4 separate regions of the Homo sapiens genome follow, and all the other regions are reported to be linked to region 1. Evidence: microRNA targets listed by miRTarBase, many of them from high-throughput screens and not tested one by one. Region 1 holds a microRNA gene; each other region holds the end of a gene's coding sequence. Distances are between the middles of the regions.
The links. Region 1 holds the annotated microRNA hsa-miR-1294 (UGUGAGGUUGGCAUUGUUGUCU, at 2,651-2,672, opposite strand). A microRNA usually pairs through its seed, bases 2 to 8, with sites in the 3' UTR of a target mRNA and lowers its output. Matches are read on the target gene's strand: a 7mer-m8 pairs with bases 2 to 8, a 7mer-A1 pairs with bases 2 to 7 and ends in A, and an 8mer does both.

Region 2: the mRNA of ZNF774 is a reported target of hsa-miR-1294. Seed matches in the 3' UTR shown: 8mer at 2,121-2,128.
Region 3: miRTarBase lists SEC24A as a target of hsa-miR-1294. Seed matches in the 3' UTR shown: 8mer at 958-965.
Region 4: the mRNA of PEX11B is a reported target of hsa-miR-1294. Seed matches in the 3' UTR shown: 7mer-m8 at 859-865.

Annotation. Positions count from the first base shown.
Region 1 is chr5:154,345,304-154,349,824 of GRCh38, reverse strand. MIR1294 (microRNA 1294) reads right to left here and starts at 2,719; the gene lies at 2,578-2,719. The region is part of intron 4 of GALNT10 (polypeptide N-acetylgalactosaminyltransferase 10); the gene reads right to left. It also overlaps the pseudogene RN7SL655P.
Region 2 is chr15:90,360,597-90,364,596 of GRCh38, forward strand. It overlaps ZNF774 (zinc finger protein 774), which reads left to right. Exons shown (of 4, transcript NM_001004309.3): 4 at 1-2,251. The coding sequence ends at 687. Among named protein-coding and RNA genes, the nearest start is that of ZNF774, 10 kb to the left of the region's middle. RefSeq lists a silencer at 2,281-2,575.
Region 3 is chr5:134,724,520-134,728,519 of GRCh38, forward strand. It overlaps SEC24A (SEC24 homolog A, COPII component), which reads left to right. Exons shown (of 23, transcript NM_021982.3): 23 at 461-3,390. The coding sequence ends at 575. Among named protein-coding and RNA genes, the nearest start is that of CAMLG, 12 kb to the right of the region's middle.
Region 4 is chr1:145,908,464-145,912,463 of GRCh38, reverse strand. PEX11B (peroxisomal biogenesis factor 11 beta) reads left to right here. Exons shown (of 4, transcript NM_003846.3): 4 at 1-1,114. The coding sequence ends at 303. It overlaps ITGA10 (integrin subunit alpha 10), which reads left to right and starts at 2,414. Exons shown (of 30, transcript NM_003637.5): 1 at 2,414-2,501. The coding sequence starts at 2,450.

The sequences.
Region 1 (4,521 bases):
CATCCTGCATTACTGGTCTCAGCTCTAATTTCAAATAGTCTGTTCCCACTGACTCATAAACACTAACATACTGAAAGCTAAAAAAAATTTTTTTTTTTCAGAGATGGGGTCTTGCTATGTTGCCTAGGCTGGAGTGCAGTGGCTATTCATAAGCACAATCCCACTACTGATCAGCACAGGAGTTTTGACCTGCTTTGTTTCCAATCAGGCTGGTTCCCTCCTCTTTAGGCAACTTGGTGGTCCCCTGCTCCTAGGAGGTCACCTTATTGATGCCAAACTTAGTGCAGATACCCGATCAGCATAGTGCACTAAAGCCCCAAACTCCTGGGCTCAAGCTATTCTCCTGCCTCAGCCTCCGGAGTAGCTAGGACTACAGGCACACACCACCTTGCCCGGAGAAATTTTTTAAATGTCTGGAAATTCTGATATTTCAGAATTTAAATTACAACTCCCAGACTACTTTTTCTACCTGGAATCTTTGTCAGATTATGGGTCTCCTTGGGGATCAGGAAATGATCTCCAGGCTCAGCAGGGAGGACAGAGGTACAGTAACTCAGGAGGTACAGCCTCCTGACAATCACTGCTCAGGACTGCTGAGAGACCATCCTGCCTCAGTGCTTTTGCTTATGCTGTTCCCTTAGCCCAAGGAACCTCCTTTACTAGGCAATGACACCTATCTAGGAAGCCTTTCCTGATTATTTTTATTTAAAATAATATAAATAAAGGGTTCGCTGTCTCTGTGGCCACTTAAACATGGCTCATAAAGTCTAACCTCAAGTGAGAGCCTTGAGCCACCCCCTTAGGATCTATTTAACCCGTACTTTAGATAATACTTGAAAAACTAATAACTGGGTTTCTTATTCCAGCTGAATTGAAATGGCAAATTAGAAAGCGTACAAGCCTTCTAGGGACAGACACACTGGAGGTGACAAGAAGTAAACATCATCTAAGAGTTTGCAGTAAGGGAGAAGATTTAGAAAAAGATATAACTGATATTAAGACATTGAAAAGTTATCAATTTATAACTCTTAAACTCTAGGGAAGAGGTGAAGAAAGTCATCATAGGGTCCTAGGATTTAAAGCTTGACAAGATCTTAGAAGTCATCCATACTTTGTAGATGCAGACACTGAAGCACAAAGAAGTGATGTAATTTGCTCAAGATCACAAAGCTATTTATTTACTGGTAGGGCTGGAACCAAAGCTTGTCTACTTGTTCTCATACCAACACCTAGAAAAGTCACTAATGGATGTTCTACTCCACAATGCCACTGAATTGATGAGGTATTTATGGAGGAAAAACAATAATTCCCTACCCCTCTACACAAAGATATTTTCTCTTATCACTGATGACAAACTCTGGGAAAGAATACCTCTCCATAGAGAAGCAGGTGTCAAAAAGGAAGAATAAAACAATAGTTGGCATTTATAGCTTTATGGTATGAATAGCGCGACTTGGAGGTGATGTAATATTTGAAAGGGCCTTCTCTAATTGGGGTAATTAATATCTAAGATGGTATTACAAATGGACAATGTGACCAAAGGCTGTAATAAAAATGAAATCCCCCAAACATATGGCTGTCCATCAAAATGCAAATGACAGAAGAGAAACAAATGACTGATGATATACAAATGATTTCAACGCTCTGTACATCACAAGCCATTTATTTTGGGGCTTGAGCCGTGGAGGAAGAATAATACGATTGATCTAAGGCAGCTATGAACCACCACTGATAAATAAATGTACATCTTCTGGCTCTATGCAGGAACAGGTATTCAGAACAAGGTGGTTCACACAGACAGACAGCTCTTTAAATGATACCTTGCAATTACATTACAGCCTTCCAGCAGATAATAAACCTTCAATGAGAGCCTTGAGCCACCCCCTTAGGATCTATTTAAATTTAAAATTTTCCAGTGACATGAAGGTTGAAGGGAAAGAAAATCAGACTCTATTTTAGAGGGGAAAAAATTCTCAGCAAATCAAACTTGGGGATTGATAGCCAAGTAGAAAAATGTCTGGTTTTTCATTCCTTCTCCTTATAGGTGAATATTTTGTCTGGCTCAACCTGGTCCCTGATTTTCAAAGTCAAAGTGCTAAGAGTGAATGGTTCTATGAGAAATAAATGAAGAAAACATAAGGCATTAAATCCTTAGAAGTAGACTGGGTGTGGTGGTGGCTCACGCCTGTAATCCCAGCACCTTGGGAGGCAGAGGCGGGAGGATCACTTGGGCTCAGGAATTTGAGACCAGCCTGGGCAACACAGCGAGACCTTGTCTCTACTAAAAATTAAAAATTAGCTGGGTGTGGTGGTGCATGCCTATAGTCCCAGTTACTTGGGAGGCGAGGTAGGATGACTGCTTGAGCCCAGGAGTTTGAGGCTGCAGTGGGCTATGGTTGCATCATTGCACTTCAACCTGAATGACAGAGCAAGATCCTGTCTAAAAAAAAAAAAATCCTTATAAGTTATTCCTATCACCACATAGGAGGTAACAGGAAGTAGTGCATAATAGTGTATCACTCTTGATCCAAATAAATTTGAGTTTGGATTCTGACTCTGCCATGCGCTTGTCCAGTTTACACCTTCCTAATCCTCAGTTTCACCTCACTGAGTCCTGTGAGGTTGGCACTGTTGTATATCAGACAATGCCAGACAACAATGCCAACCTCACAGGACTCGGTGAGATCATAAATGAACAGATCTTGGCACACATTAGGTGTTAATAAATGGTGACATTTATTACTGTTCTCATATATTATTATTAATGATGGTTTAAGTTTGGGATCTTCAATGTGGAACTAGAAAGGAGGATGAAAGAAAAAGAAGGGATGAATAAACACAGAATTTCCTAGCAAGGAATATGATGGTATCAAGGTTGATAGATGCTCTGAGCCAGCCACTGTTCTAAGCTCTCTACACAAAATATCTCAATTAATCTATAAAACTCTGAGAAAGTAGCCCAGTTTTACTCAATCAGGCACAGAGAGGTTAAGTACTAGCTCAAAGTCTGCTGTCTGACTAAAGCTTGTGTTCTAAGAACACAAGGATTCAAAGCCCAAACAACTTAAGGTTTAAATCTTCCATTTAGCTTCTTTAAAAAAAAAATTGGCACAACTGTGATTTACACTGTTATAAAAGCAGTACTACCTATAGGAGAGTTGCTGGTCATAACATTTGGTTCCTGGTACTGCCAAGGCGGCTCCTGTAATTAAGTTAGCTACAGACACAGCACATTGAGGTATGTCCAAAAAACTTGTCATGAGATGAAATGTCTTTGTTAGATGACTAAAAATGTTCAGTCCTGCTGAAAGTATGTACTGCATGTGCTGTGTTAGCAATTAGCTAAAATGTTAAGACAGGGCAGATACTTGAATGCACTAGTCAAGAAATGTTATTAGAGAATGAGCTTTGGCTCATATTTTCCATACAGCCATTATGGAAAACAGTATGGAGGTTCCTCAAAACGTTAAAAACAGAACTACCATATGATCCAGCAATCTCATTTCTGGATATATATCCAAAGAGAATAAAATCACTATCCTTAAGAGATATCTGTACTGCCATGTTCATTGCAGTACTACTCCCAATAGCCAAGATATGGAAACAACCTAAGTGTCCACCAACAGATGAATAAAGAAAATGTGGTGTGTGTGTATCTATCTCACACACACACACACACACACACGCACACACGAATATTATTCAGCCTTAAAAAAGAAGGAAATAGCCAGGCATGGTGGCTCATGCCTGTAATCCCAGGCACTTTGGGTGGCTAAGGTGGGTGGATCACTTGAGCCCAGGAGTTCAAGACCAGCCTAGGCAACATGGTGAAACCCTGGCTCTTCAAAAAATACAAAAAAAAAAAAAAAAAAAAAAATTAGGCGGGTGTGGTGGTGCACAACTGTAGTCCCAGGCACTTTGGGTGGCTGAGGTGGGTGGATCACTTGAGCCCCAGAGTTCAAGACTAGCCTGGGCAACATGGTGAAACCCTGGCTCTACAAAAAATACAAAAAAAAAAAAAATTCGCCGGGTGTAGTGGTGCAGGCCTGTAGTCCCAGCTACTCAGGAGGCTGAGGTGGGAGGATTGCTGGAGCCCAGAGAAGTCAAGGTTGCAGTGAGCCATGACTGGGGCACTGCACTCCAGCCTGGGCAACAGAGTGAAACTCTTTCTTAAAAAAAAAAAAAAAAAAAAAAAAGGTGGAAATTTGCTGCTTGTAACAACCTGGATGAACTTGGAGGACATTATGCTAAGTGAAATAGGCCAGACACACAAGATAAATACCGCATGATCTCACTCATATGAGGAATCTAAAAAAAGTTGAACTCATAGTTACAGAGCAGAATGGTGATTTCCAGGGGCTCCGGGTGGGGGAAATAGGGAGATGTGGGTCAAAGGGTACAAACTTTCAGTTCAAAGATGAGTAAGTTCTGGAGACCTAATGTGCAGCATGGTGAATATAGTTAATAATGCTGTATTATGTACTTGAAGTTTGCTAAAAGAATAGATCTTAAATATTCTCA
Region 2 (4,000 bases), not on the chromosome of region 1:
ACCCACACAGGCGAGAAGCCCTACGCGTGCCTGGAATGTCACAAAAGCTTCAGTCGAAGCTCAAATTTCATCACTCACCAGAGGACCCACACAGGGGTGAAGCCTTACAGGTGTAATGACTGTGGGGAGAGTTTTAGCCAGAGCTCGGATTTGATTAAGCACCAACGAACCCACACGGGAGAACGGCCCTTCAAATGCCCGGAGTGCGGGAAGGGCTTCAGAGATAGTTCTCATTTTGTAGCTCACATGAGCACTCATTCAGGAGAGAGGCCTTTCAGTTGTCCTGACTGCCACAAAAGCTTCAGTCAGAGCTCACATTTGGTCACGCACCAAAGAACACACACAGGTGAGAGACCTTTTAAGTGCGAAAACTGTGGGAAAGGATTCGCCGACAGCTCCGCCCTCATTAAGCACCAACGAATCCACACCGGAGAAAGACCCTACAAATGTGGAGAGTGTGGGAAGAGCTTCAATCAGAGCTCCCACTTTATTACCCATCAGCGAATCCACTTAGGAGACAGGCCCTATCGATGTCCTGAGTGTGGCAAGACCTTCAATCAGCGTTCCCATTTCCTCACACACCAGAGAACGCATACAGGAGAAAAACCTTTCCACTGTAGTAAATGTAACAAGAGCTTCCGTCAGAAAGCGCATCTTTTATGCCATCAAAACACCCATTTGATTTAGGAAGTAGTCTTTGGTGTTCAGCTGCTCCCTTGCACATTTTCATTGCTACTGTCTTCAAGCACCCCAAATAGAGAAAACCTGGGCGTCAGTGGCTCAATTTGGGCCCTGATCTATTCTCCCTCTTTCTTGTCTATGTTATAACAGAGAGGATAAACTTAAAGGGTCCAAATAACGGTCCGAATACAAAAGGCATTCCTTCAGTGTGTGACTGACTCTTAGGGAAATGTGAGTTTAATAGTTGATGCCCGCCAGGCGTGGTGGCTCACCCCTGTAATCCCAGCACTTTTGGGAGGCCAAGGTGGGTGGATCACTTGAGGTCAGGAGTTGAGACCAGCCTGGTGAGCATGGTGAAACCTCATCTCTACTAAAAATGCAAAAATTAGCTGGGCATGGTGGCACGTGCCTGTAGTCCCAGCTACTCGGGAGGCCGAGGCAGAAGAATCATTTGAACTCAGAAGGTGCAGGTTGCAGTGAGTTGAGATCATGCCACTGCACTCCAGCCTGGGCAACAGAGAGAGACTCTGTCTCCAAAAAAATTAAAAAGTTGATGCCTAGTTACTAAATGAGAAGTGAGAAAAATGTGGCCTAGAGATCACATGTTCACCACCTAGTACAGTGCCTGGCACAACATAGATGCTCAATAACTAAATGGTCCCATCATTATTAATGATTAATAGTTGAGGTCTTATATAAAGGCTTTAATGCAGTACCTGGCCCTTAAAAGACACTCAGTACAAGATTGGTGGCTTTTATCAGTCTTATTACTCAATTAGAAATTTATTAGTGTAGTCCCCCCGCCCCAAACTCAGAACGTGAAAGAAATTAGATTGGAACTAGAAGGTTTGGGGTTGGAATACACAAATTGAATAAAATGGAAATGCACTGCCAGTTCAGTGCTGTGCAGGCATTAGTCACCAGAGGTCTCACTGCCATGACAAGGCCAAATTATCGTAGAGGATGTTTGCGGTCTTGTGACTTGGAGGCTGAAAGAATTTCAGAAGCTCTTTTAAATGGCAGTGTATGGCAGTGTATCTACCAGAGGTTTGCTGTCATCTGACACAGAGAAAATATCCTACAATGAACAAGCCAGAGGGACCTGGTAGAGGACTATAAAATTGTGGAAGCAAAATTGCTGAGAATGTCAAATGATATTACAGGGATCCTCCCTGGCATTTAGCTGAAGGAAGCAACTCTTGTTTTCTAATTTGCTGGGTCATTGGCCATTTAGTTTTAGGTTAATATAATTCTCTGATCCTTTTAGGGCCATCCAGGTTATGCACTAGTACATTCCTACATTCAATTGAAATAAATTGAGGGACGGCAAGTGTGTTGGAAAGAACACCGACTTCATTGAGAAGGTAAAGTATTTGAGTCCTGGCCCTGACGCTTAATTTGGCCAGACTTTCATCTTCTCCCAGCCTCAAGTTTTACCTACCTCACAAGGTTGTTGTGAGGATCTAAAAATACACACACACACACACACACACACACACACACACACACTTTGTTGGTTAACTATAAATGTAATATCTCTATGTTATAATTCTGTTGCTAATGTCTTTTTTCCAAGAAAATTTTGGCTAATATTTCTTTAGGTATTCCTTTTTCTCTCATAGTGAGGGATTAAAAAAAAAAAAAACTGTTGAAAAATTAGGGCGTAAAAATGCTAAATGACATGACTCATCATGGGCCACGTAGTTAACAGAAGAGCCAGATTTGGCTGCAAGTCACTAGATTTCCAGCCTGCAGTCCTCCTCTGCAACAACAGACCAGCTCTGGGATTTGTTACAGTGCCTGTGAGACATTACAGGACTGGAGGACCCATATTATATCCATTAAACCAGTCTGAATTTGGAAATGATGGAGGGTGTAGTCTAAGTTGTAGGGAGCTTTGCAAGAACCTGTGCTGGGGTCCTTGATCCTGGTGGAATGGGGGTGGAGGAGTGAGCGCAAATGCAAGGGGTTAAGGAGGGAGCTGGGTAGTTATCACTTTTTAGAGTGCAAAGTGGTGGATTAAAGGTTTCTTTTCTTTCATTCTCTTCCATTATATGGAATGCCATCTGAGTGCTGTGGCTCATGAAGGATAGAACTCAGCTGATAACCTTACCTCAGTTTTTGAAAGCATCATTAGATAATTGACCAGAAAATTTTTTTTAGTTAATCCAGTGCAGTGGTTCTCAAACTGTGAGCCCAGTCCAGTAGCATCAGCATTATCTGGGAACTTTTTAGAAATGCAGATTCAGGCCGGGTGCAGTGGCTCACACCTGTAATCCCAGCACTCTAGGAGGCCGAGGCGGGTGGACCACCTGAGGTCAGGAGTTTGAGACCAGCCTGGCCAACATGGCAAAACCCCACCTATACTAAAAATACAAAAATTATCCAGGTGTGGTGGCATGTGCCTGTAATCCCACCAATTTGGGAGGCTGAGGCAGGAGAATCACTTGAACCCAGGAAATGGAGGCTGCAGTGAGCTGAGATCACACCTAGTCTCGAACTCCTCACCTCAGGTGATCTGCCTGCCTCAGCCTCCCAAAGTGCTGGGATTACAGGTGTGAGCCACCGTGCCTGGCCACCTATCATTTTGTTTGTTTTTCATGTTGTTCAGCTATTGTAAGATGTGAGGGTTTTTTTGTTTTTTGTTTTTTTTAGGTGAAGTCTTGCTCTGTTGCCCATGCTGGAGTGCAATGGCATGATCTTGGCTCACTGCAACCTCTGCCTCCCAGGTTCAAGCGATTCTCCTGCCTCAGCCTCCGGAGTAGCTGGGATTACAGATGCATGTCACCATGCCCAGCTAATTTTATATGTTAAGTAGAGACGGGGTTTCACCATGTTGGCCAGGCGGGTCTTGACCTCCTGACCTCAGGTGATCCACCTGCCTTGGCCTCCCAAAGTGCTGGGATTACAGGCGAGAGCCACCTCACCTGGCCACCTATCACTTTGATTTTCATGTTGTTTGGCTATGGTAAAATGTGAGCTCTCGAAGGGCAATGTGAGATTTGCTTTGTGGCCCTGCCAATCCCCTCCCTCCTCCCTGTCTTCCTGCCCACCCCCCCCCACTCCCCCGCCAGCCATGAGCAGGGAATATTTCAATGCTATTGCTGAGAGTGGAGGTAACCCTTTCTATAGTTTTCTTTTGTTTCTACCTCATGACTAGATGATTCACTGCTTGAACATGCTCCACACATCCGTTCTTTCTCACTCCAAAATTGAGGTCATCACCAAGCCCCATTAATTTTACCTCCCAGATTCCTCTCGAACCTATCTGTCAAATCTGTCCATCTTCACTGCCACCCTTCAGTACCAAATGACCAGT
Region 3 (4,000 bases), 20 Mb from region 1:
GGAGGTTGTGGTGAGCCAGGATCGTGCCATTGCACTCCAGCCTGGGCAACAAGAGTAAAACTCCATCTCAAAAAAAAAAAAAAGGCTCGGTAGAATTCCATTGTATATATATACCACATTTGAAAAATCCATTCAGTTATTTCCATATCGTGGCTATTGTGATTAATGCTGCAGTGATCATGGAAGTGCAGACATCTCTTTGATATACTGATTTCAATTCCTTTGGATATATATTCAGAAATGGAATTTCTGGATCAACTATTTCTCTTAATTCCACCATAAGCTTTTCCCTTAAACAACTTGAAATTTACATAATCAACCAAGTATTCTCAGAGAAAGCCTCTAGAAGTAACTGTTTATATAGTAAATGTTATTAGGGTTATGAGGAAATCAAAAGCCTTCTGACAAGTCTATTTTACTGCTACATTTTATCTAAATTTTTTTGCCTTTTATTCCTAAGGGATGAGAGTCCAATGAAAGCAAACTTCCTTCAAAACATGATAGAAGACAGAACAGAATCTGCATTATCATATTATGAATTCCTGTTGCATATACAGCAACAAGTGAATAAATGAATGAATGAAGAAATTTGACTTATTTTTAAGGAATGTCACGATAGTGCAGAATACCTGGAAATGTGTAATACCTTCTTTTTCTATTATGTTTGTGGACTAATGTGATGATTGAGATGTTCTCACTGTGATTTCAACAACCTATAGCAAATAAAAGACCACAGCAGAGAATCAAACATGCAACTCTGAAATACTGTATTTTTCAAATCAGAATATAGCTACGTATGATTGGATACTTTTTTCTTGCCAATTATGTTTGAGTTGTTATGGATTAAAATAAGAATATTGCAGAGGCAAAGTACATTTTGTAAAATAAAGATTTCTGTGTTCTACATGTATATTTCTCATTTTTAATTTTTCTGAATCTTTGGCTGCTACATTTAAAACCTCACAAACCTAAGTGTTGCAGGGAAGTTACAAATTGATTGGTAGTGATGTTTTTAAAATAAAAACAATGGAAAGTAAATATAATGTAGGAAAACTAGAATTCATTCCCCACACGTGTCTTTTTTTTTTCTTTGTTAAGGGAAAGGATCATGTTGACTAAAACTAAACTAATTCTAGTATAGCTTGAGAAAAATATGAAGAAACACATTCAAGCTTTAAAATCTGTCAGTATTCTTTATGCTTGAAGAACAAAGTCACTTTGATTTGAAGTGAGAACTATCATTAGGTGGTTTTCTGATTTCCTGATGAAGAGTTGGACATACTGTCTTAATCTATAGTGAAAAGAATTTGAGCTGTCTTCATAAACACTGGGACTAGCAATGATAATAGGGAGATAAGAAACTTTAATTATCTTGATCCTTTAAGTGGATTTTATTTGGTGCATTTCTGCTCTGGGTATATAATAAAAGTGGGGGTTTTTGGTGAAATGAGTGAAGAAATGAAAGGTTTCTAAAGTGCTATCCAAATACATCAGTAACATTTTTCTAAGGAGTTTAATTGTTAAATTGGAAGTCATTCATAAGAAATATTTATGCTTGAATATGAAAATCTATGAAAGCATAAATGCTGCTGTTTGATTTGGTGGATATTAAGATTATACACATCCAACATATTAAAGTTATGAAAGAAACTTGACTTCTGAAAATCCTTAAGAGACTGCTTTCTTGATTCAGCTAGAGAAATATTATAGTCAAAACTATTGAGTGAATTTTGTTTACAAATAGGTAAATTATACATTTGTATATTTAAAGTGCTGTGACATAGTATCTTTAAGAGTTTGGCTCAGTTTTCACAGATTCATTTTGTCTTAAGAATTTCTTAAATATGTTCATGTATAATACTTGATCAAAATATTTTTGGGTTTTTTGTTTTGTTTTAATGGGTTAGAAAATGTTTACAATCTTGGTCTTATATGATCACCAATGGAATAGTAACTTCCAGGTTTATATCAATATGAGCTGACTTTAACTGAGTTGTTTGGGATAGGGAAGAAGCAGTCCCTCTACAGTATACAACTACTGCTTGCCAGCTGGATCAAAATAATCATGTTTTATGAAAATATCTCCCTTAAGCAGTGTTAAGGTTGGTTTGCAGTGTGTAAGTGGCACATTGAACTGGAAGTTTTCTTGAAAGCTGCTTCATCTATTAAGAAGCAATTTTCAAATTGTAGCGAATTATATTATCCCCTCTTTTAAAGAAACAGTCGTTATATGCTGATGTTTCTTAAAATAACTAAAATGTTCCTCTTAATGTGATTTTAAATGGAGTTATTTGTAGGTCCTTTCTTAGTAGTAAAGAATCTTCTAGAGGGAAACATTTGTGCTTTTAGGGATAATCTTCCTTGTGCCTCACTACATCCCTAAGTGGGTATGACTCTTGTTATTACCACATGCTTTTTTAGTATATTTCACAAATTTACTTTTAAATATTATTTTAGATACGGTGTAACATGTGCAATTCAGAATAATTTTATAACAGGTCATGAAAAACATAACTTTAGTTAGGATTCACAATATTTGTTCTCCACATAATGAGAGAATGAATGAGCCTTTGGAGATACTGATATAAGGCAATTATTTTTTGCAATGTTGAATGTGTTTTTTAGTTTGATTCTTTTTTTTTCCCCCAATAGGGCACTACCTGCCATATCATCTTGTATTACTTTTTGATGTAAAGCGACTAATATTTACACTATGCCATATTTTTTTTAATTATAGTTGTAAATTATGAAAGATCCTTGAATTTTCTACAGATCTACAACTACTAATGTAACAGACAAGGGCAATCTTGGTATTTAAATCTGAGCATGGCAGTTCTACCATAAAAAGTACTCTATTTTTCTAATTTCTAGGATTTTTAAAATAACATTTCTGTAAGTCTGACATACTAATAGTCACTCAAGCAGTACCATTTATTTTAGTTTGCATATATTTTCACTGTTTTTAATTTAATGTATTGAGTCTAATAGACTGTTTTGCAATAATTAGAATAAAGATTTATTTCTTCTAATCAAAGATGCATAACAGCTATTATCTAGGGGACCACCAAATGTGATTTCAAAATTTTGTTAACTATTACAAATGTAATCCTTATATAGAAATTTTAATTTTGTAAAGTAGTGTATAATATTGTAATATTAAATTCTTGTTCTTAAATTCAAATATGTATTGATCTTCAATGTGCTGTGTTAAATCTTGCTTCTCTGAAAAGTTGGAGACAAGATTTGTCTTCCTTTTTACAGTTTGTAATTTTCACTGTTTTATTCCTGTTAAAAAAAAAAAAAAGTCATTTGTAACCCATGCAGACCATTGTTTGATCTATGCTAACTTATCAACTTGGCTATTCAATAAAGTTAATTGAAAAGAGCTTATATATAGTGACTAGTTATTTAAAGTGATATGAGCCTGGTATGGTGGCCCACACCTGTAATCCCAGCAGTTTGGGAGGCCCAGGTGTAAGGATCACTTGAGGCCTGGAGTTGAAGACCTGTCTGGGCCAGGTGGCGAAAACTTGTCTCTACAAAATAGTTTTTAAAAGTAGGCTGGGCGTGGTGGCTCACGCCTGTAATCCTAGCACTTTGGGAGGCCAAGGCAGGTGGATCACCTGAGGTCAGGAGTTCGAGACCAGCCTGGCCAATATGGTGAAACCCCATTTCTACTAAAAGTACAAAAACTTAGCCAGGCATGGTGGCGCATGCCTGTAATCCCAGCTACTTGGGAGGCTGAGGCAGGAGAATCGCTTGAACCCTGGCCGAGGTTGCAGTGATCCCAGATCGTGCCATTGCACTCCAGCTTGGGGAACAAGAGCAAAACTCCATCTAAAAAAAAAAAAAAAAGTCCAGGTGTGGTGGCTCATGCCTGTAATCCCAAAACTTTGGGAGGCCGAGGCGGGCAGATCACCTGAGGTCAGGAGTTTGAGACCACCCTGGCCAATATGGTGAAACTCCGTTTCTACTAAAAATACAAAAATTAGCTGGGCAT
Region 4 (4,000 bases), not on the chromosome of region 1:
TCTGGAGGAGGAGTCCCAGGAGGAAGTGAAACTGGGGGACTTGGGGGACCAGGGACTCCAGGAGGAGGTCTGCCCCAACTGGCTCTGAAACTTCGGCTGCAAGTCCTGCTCCTGGCTCGAGTCCTTAGAGGTCATCCCCCACTTCTGCTAGACGTGGTCAGAAATGCCTGTGATCTCTTCATTCCTCTGGACAAACTAGGCCTCTGGCGCTGTGGCCCTGGGATTGTGGGGCTTTGTGGCCTCGTGTCCTCCATCCTGTCTATTCTCACCCTAATCTATCCCTGGCTACGACTCAAGCCCTGACCTTCCGGTACAGGATAAGGAGGGGACCTGAATTGGTGAGATGGAATCTTAGATCGTCCCCCATGTGCCAGCCTCATTCGAATTCTACTCTTTGGTTAAAGTTAGAAATTCAGAGATTTAGGGGTGGAGGAAGAGCTTTGGGGAAGATGAGGTAAGGAAAGATGACTCGTGAAGTTAATAGGATGTCTCTAATTTCTAGATGTGCCTGAGCTTCTGTTCTTTTCCTCTTTCTTTGTGTCTCTCTTGAATATATTTACTTTGTGTCTCTTAACTCTGTTTAAGGTTCTGTGTCTATGCATCTCTCTCTTTCTTTTTTCAACCTTCTCATTCTCCTATCCAGGGATTTAATCAGCAGAATTACTTTTTGATAGGGGAGGTATAAGGTTTGGCCTGTAAGGTTCTAACTGCCTTCTTTTTTCTCACAGAGGTGGCTTATGGCAGATTTTTCCTCCTTCAAACTCCAAACATAATTTTTAAGACTATGTGCCAGTGGACTCTTCCCTTATATCTCTGCACCACAAGTTGTTGGATGTTTCCTCTTCCTCCCTTATGTCTACCTCACCAACCTCGCTCATCATTTGGCCCTTATCCTTCCTTGTACACCTACCTTCAGATTTCTGCTTACACTTTGATTTCAGAGCTTTATTCCCCAGTCTGTTCTTACTCCTTTGTCGCTTATCCAGAATGATGCTATGTGTAGCATCTTGCTGTAAATCCTGTACAATGATTCTGTGTAAATAGCTGTGGCCTATGCCAATAATGAAGAGCAAGCCTTTCAGGTAAGCAAATTAAAGTTCAGTTTGCTCATCGACATTTGGTCTGGTCCCTCATTTTTTGGTAATTTGAGGCCCCTATTCCTGTCACTGTGGTTTGGGTTTTTCTCGGGATTAGCCACTAACATCACCCACATTATTTTTCTTGAGCACCTACAGTATGTAAAGCAACATACTTAGTGGGCATCCAAAAATCTAAGAAGCTCCACACTCCCAACTTTAAGAAGTTTATAACCTAGCTGAGGAGTTGGGGTGGCAGAGGAGTGGTCTAATACTAAAGTTATTGTCCTGGCTCCACAAAGCACATCTCATACCAGTTCAGATATAATCCCTCTAAGAAGCAGAATGCCATATGACAGCATAGGCTAAGAGCCAAGGACAGAACCAAGTGGAGTGGGGCTGGTAAGGATTTGGAGCTGTGTCTTCACAAGTTGAGACTCCCCTGGGTGGGTAGGGAAATGATACCACTGCTATCAGCTCTTTCATTTTCCATATTCCAGGTTGAGATAAATAAGGTTAGGAAGTGAATCTATCGGCCAGGCGTGGTGGCTCACGCCGGTAATCCCAGCACTTTGGGAGGCCGAGGCAGGTGGATCTCTTAAGGTCAGGAGTTCAAGACCAGCCTGGCCAACATGGTGAAACCCTGCCTCTACTAAAAATAAAAAATTAGCCAGGCATGGTGGCATGTGCCTGTAGTCCCAGCTACCTGGGAGGCTGAGGCATGAGAAATGCTTGAACGTGGGAGACAGAGGTTGCAGTGAGCCAAGATTGTGCCACTGCACTCCAGCCTGGGTGACAGAGTGAGACTCTGCCTTAAAAAAGAAAAAAAAAAATCTGAATCTATCTCCTATCTCCCAGCTGGGTGCAGTGGCTCACTTTGGGAGGCTGAGGTGGGAGGATTCCTTGAGTTCAGGAGTTCAAGACCAGCCTGGGTAACATAGTGAAACCCTGTCTGTATTCTCAATATAAATAATTTGTCTAAAACTTTTAAACAAAAGTTTAAGATTCTTTTCTTATAAAAAAGAATCCATCTCCCACTCCTGTTCCAAATTTGAGGAAAGCATTATTGACCTGGCAACAATAAACAGTAGAAAAAAAGAAATAGCAGAAATGGGCAAAAAAATATGTTCTCTGGATATAGAGATGAGGCCTCCAGGGGGCAGCACCAAGGCAGAGAAATAGACTAAGATCGCTCAGTGTTTTCCTTGGTCTGGGGCTCCCCACAGTTCCCCACCATCACTCCTCCCATTCCTTCCAACTTTATTTTTAGCTGCCATTGGGAGGGGGCAGGATGGGAGGGAAAGTGAAGAAAACAGAAAAGGAGAGGGACAGAGGCCAGAGGACTTCTCATACTGGACAGAAACCGATCAGGCATGGAACTCCCCTTCGTCACTCACCTGTTCTTGCCCCTGGTGTTCCTGACAGGTGAGGGAAGTTAACTTCTTGGTTTCTGGTGGGGATGGAAGATACATAGATTGTTTGGAATTGGGACCATTATAGTTAAAATTCTTTGGGATTTAGGTTAGGAAGCGAACACTGGTTGTACATTTCTTGTATGTGTGTCTGTGTCCTTGTGCATTTTTATGCCCTCACATATGACTGTTTGAATATTGAGACTGGCAGGGGCTAAAGCTGCCTAGGACCTTGTGTAAGATTTGTATCTAATAATTATATAATATATAATGTATAATTATATATTATATATAATATACATATAATATATAACAATTATATATTATATATAATATACATATAATATATAACATAATTATATATTATATATAATATACATATAATATGTAACATAATTATATATTATATATAATATACATATAATATATAACATAATTATATATTATATATAATATACATATAATATATAACATAATTATATATTATATATAATATACATATAATATATAACATAATTATATATTATATAGTTATATATTGTATATAATAATTATTATTATTTTTTAAAGATAGGGTCTCACTTTGTTGTCTAGGCTGGAGTGCAGTGGTGCAACCACAGCTCAGTAGTTGGGACTACTAGGTACGCGCCACCACGCACAGCTAATTTTTTTTTTTGAAACAGGGTCTCACTCTGTCATTCAAGCTGGAGTGCAGTGGCATGATCATGGCTCACTCTAGCCTCAACCTCCCAGGCTGAGGTGATCCTTCCACCTTAGCCTCCCGAGTAGCTGGGACTATAGGCGTGTGCTACCACGCCTGGCTAATTTTTTTTTTTTTAGAGACAGAGTTTTGCTATGTTGGCCAGGCTGGTCTTTAACTCCTGGACTCAAGCAATCCGCCCCCGACAGCCACCCAAAGTGCCGGGATTATAGGCATGAGCCACCATGCTTGGCTGAGATTTGTATCTAAATATATAAAATCTTCATCCTAAGCCCTATAGGGGTAAGGAGACAAAAAAGAAATGTGATGTGACCTTCCACGTGGCTAGTCTGATTCCTATTATCCCCTCCCTAACTTCTTACCCTTGGTGGTCCCTGGGGCCTGAGGCATAACTGACTAACTATGTGGTCAGAACTCTGGGTTTATCTAACCAATGAGCTGCAGTTTCTGGTCATACAGCCCTGCCAGTTTTCTGGATGCAAAACTGCTCACATACTAAACACCTTTCTGAAAATGAGCATGGTTTGGGATAAAGCTATAGCCATTGGTAATGGTGAGGGGGTAGCCTGAGAGGGGGTTGCTTAGAAGTACAGAGCAAGACATAGTTGGGGAAAGGACCATGGGAAGGACAAGAGGCCTGGAATTTTTCCTTGGCAGTGCCCTGTAATCATTGTTTCCTAAAATACCAGCTCTGATTTTAAAGGCATTGGGGTCAAAAGGGAAGATTAGCTAGGGTCGGGCACCTTTAGAATGGGCTGAAGGCTGAGGAAACCATGGAGGTAGGTAGGGGA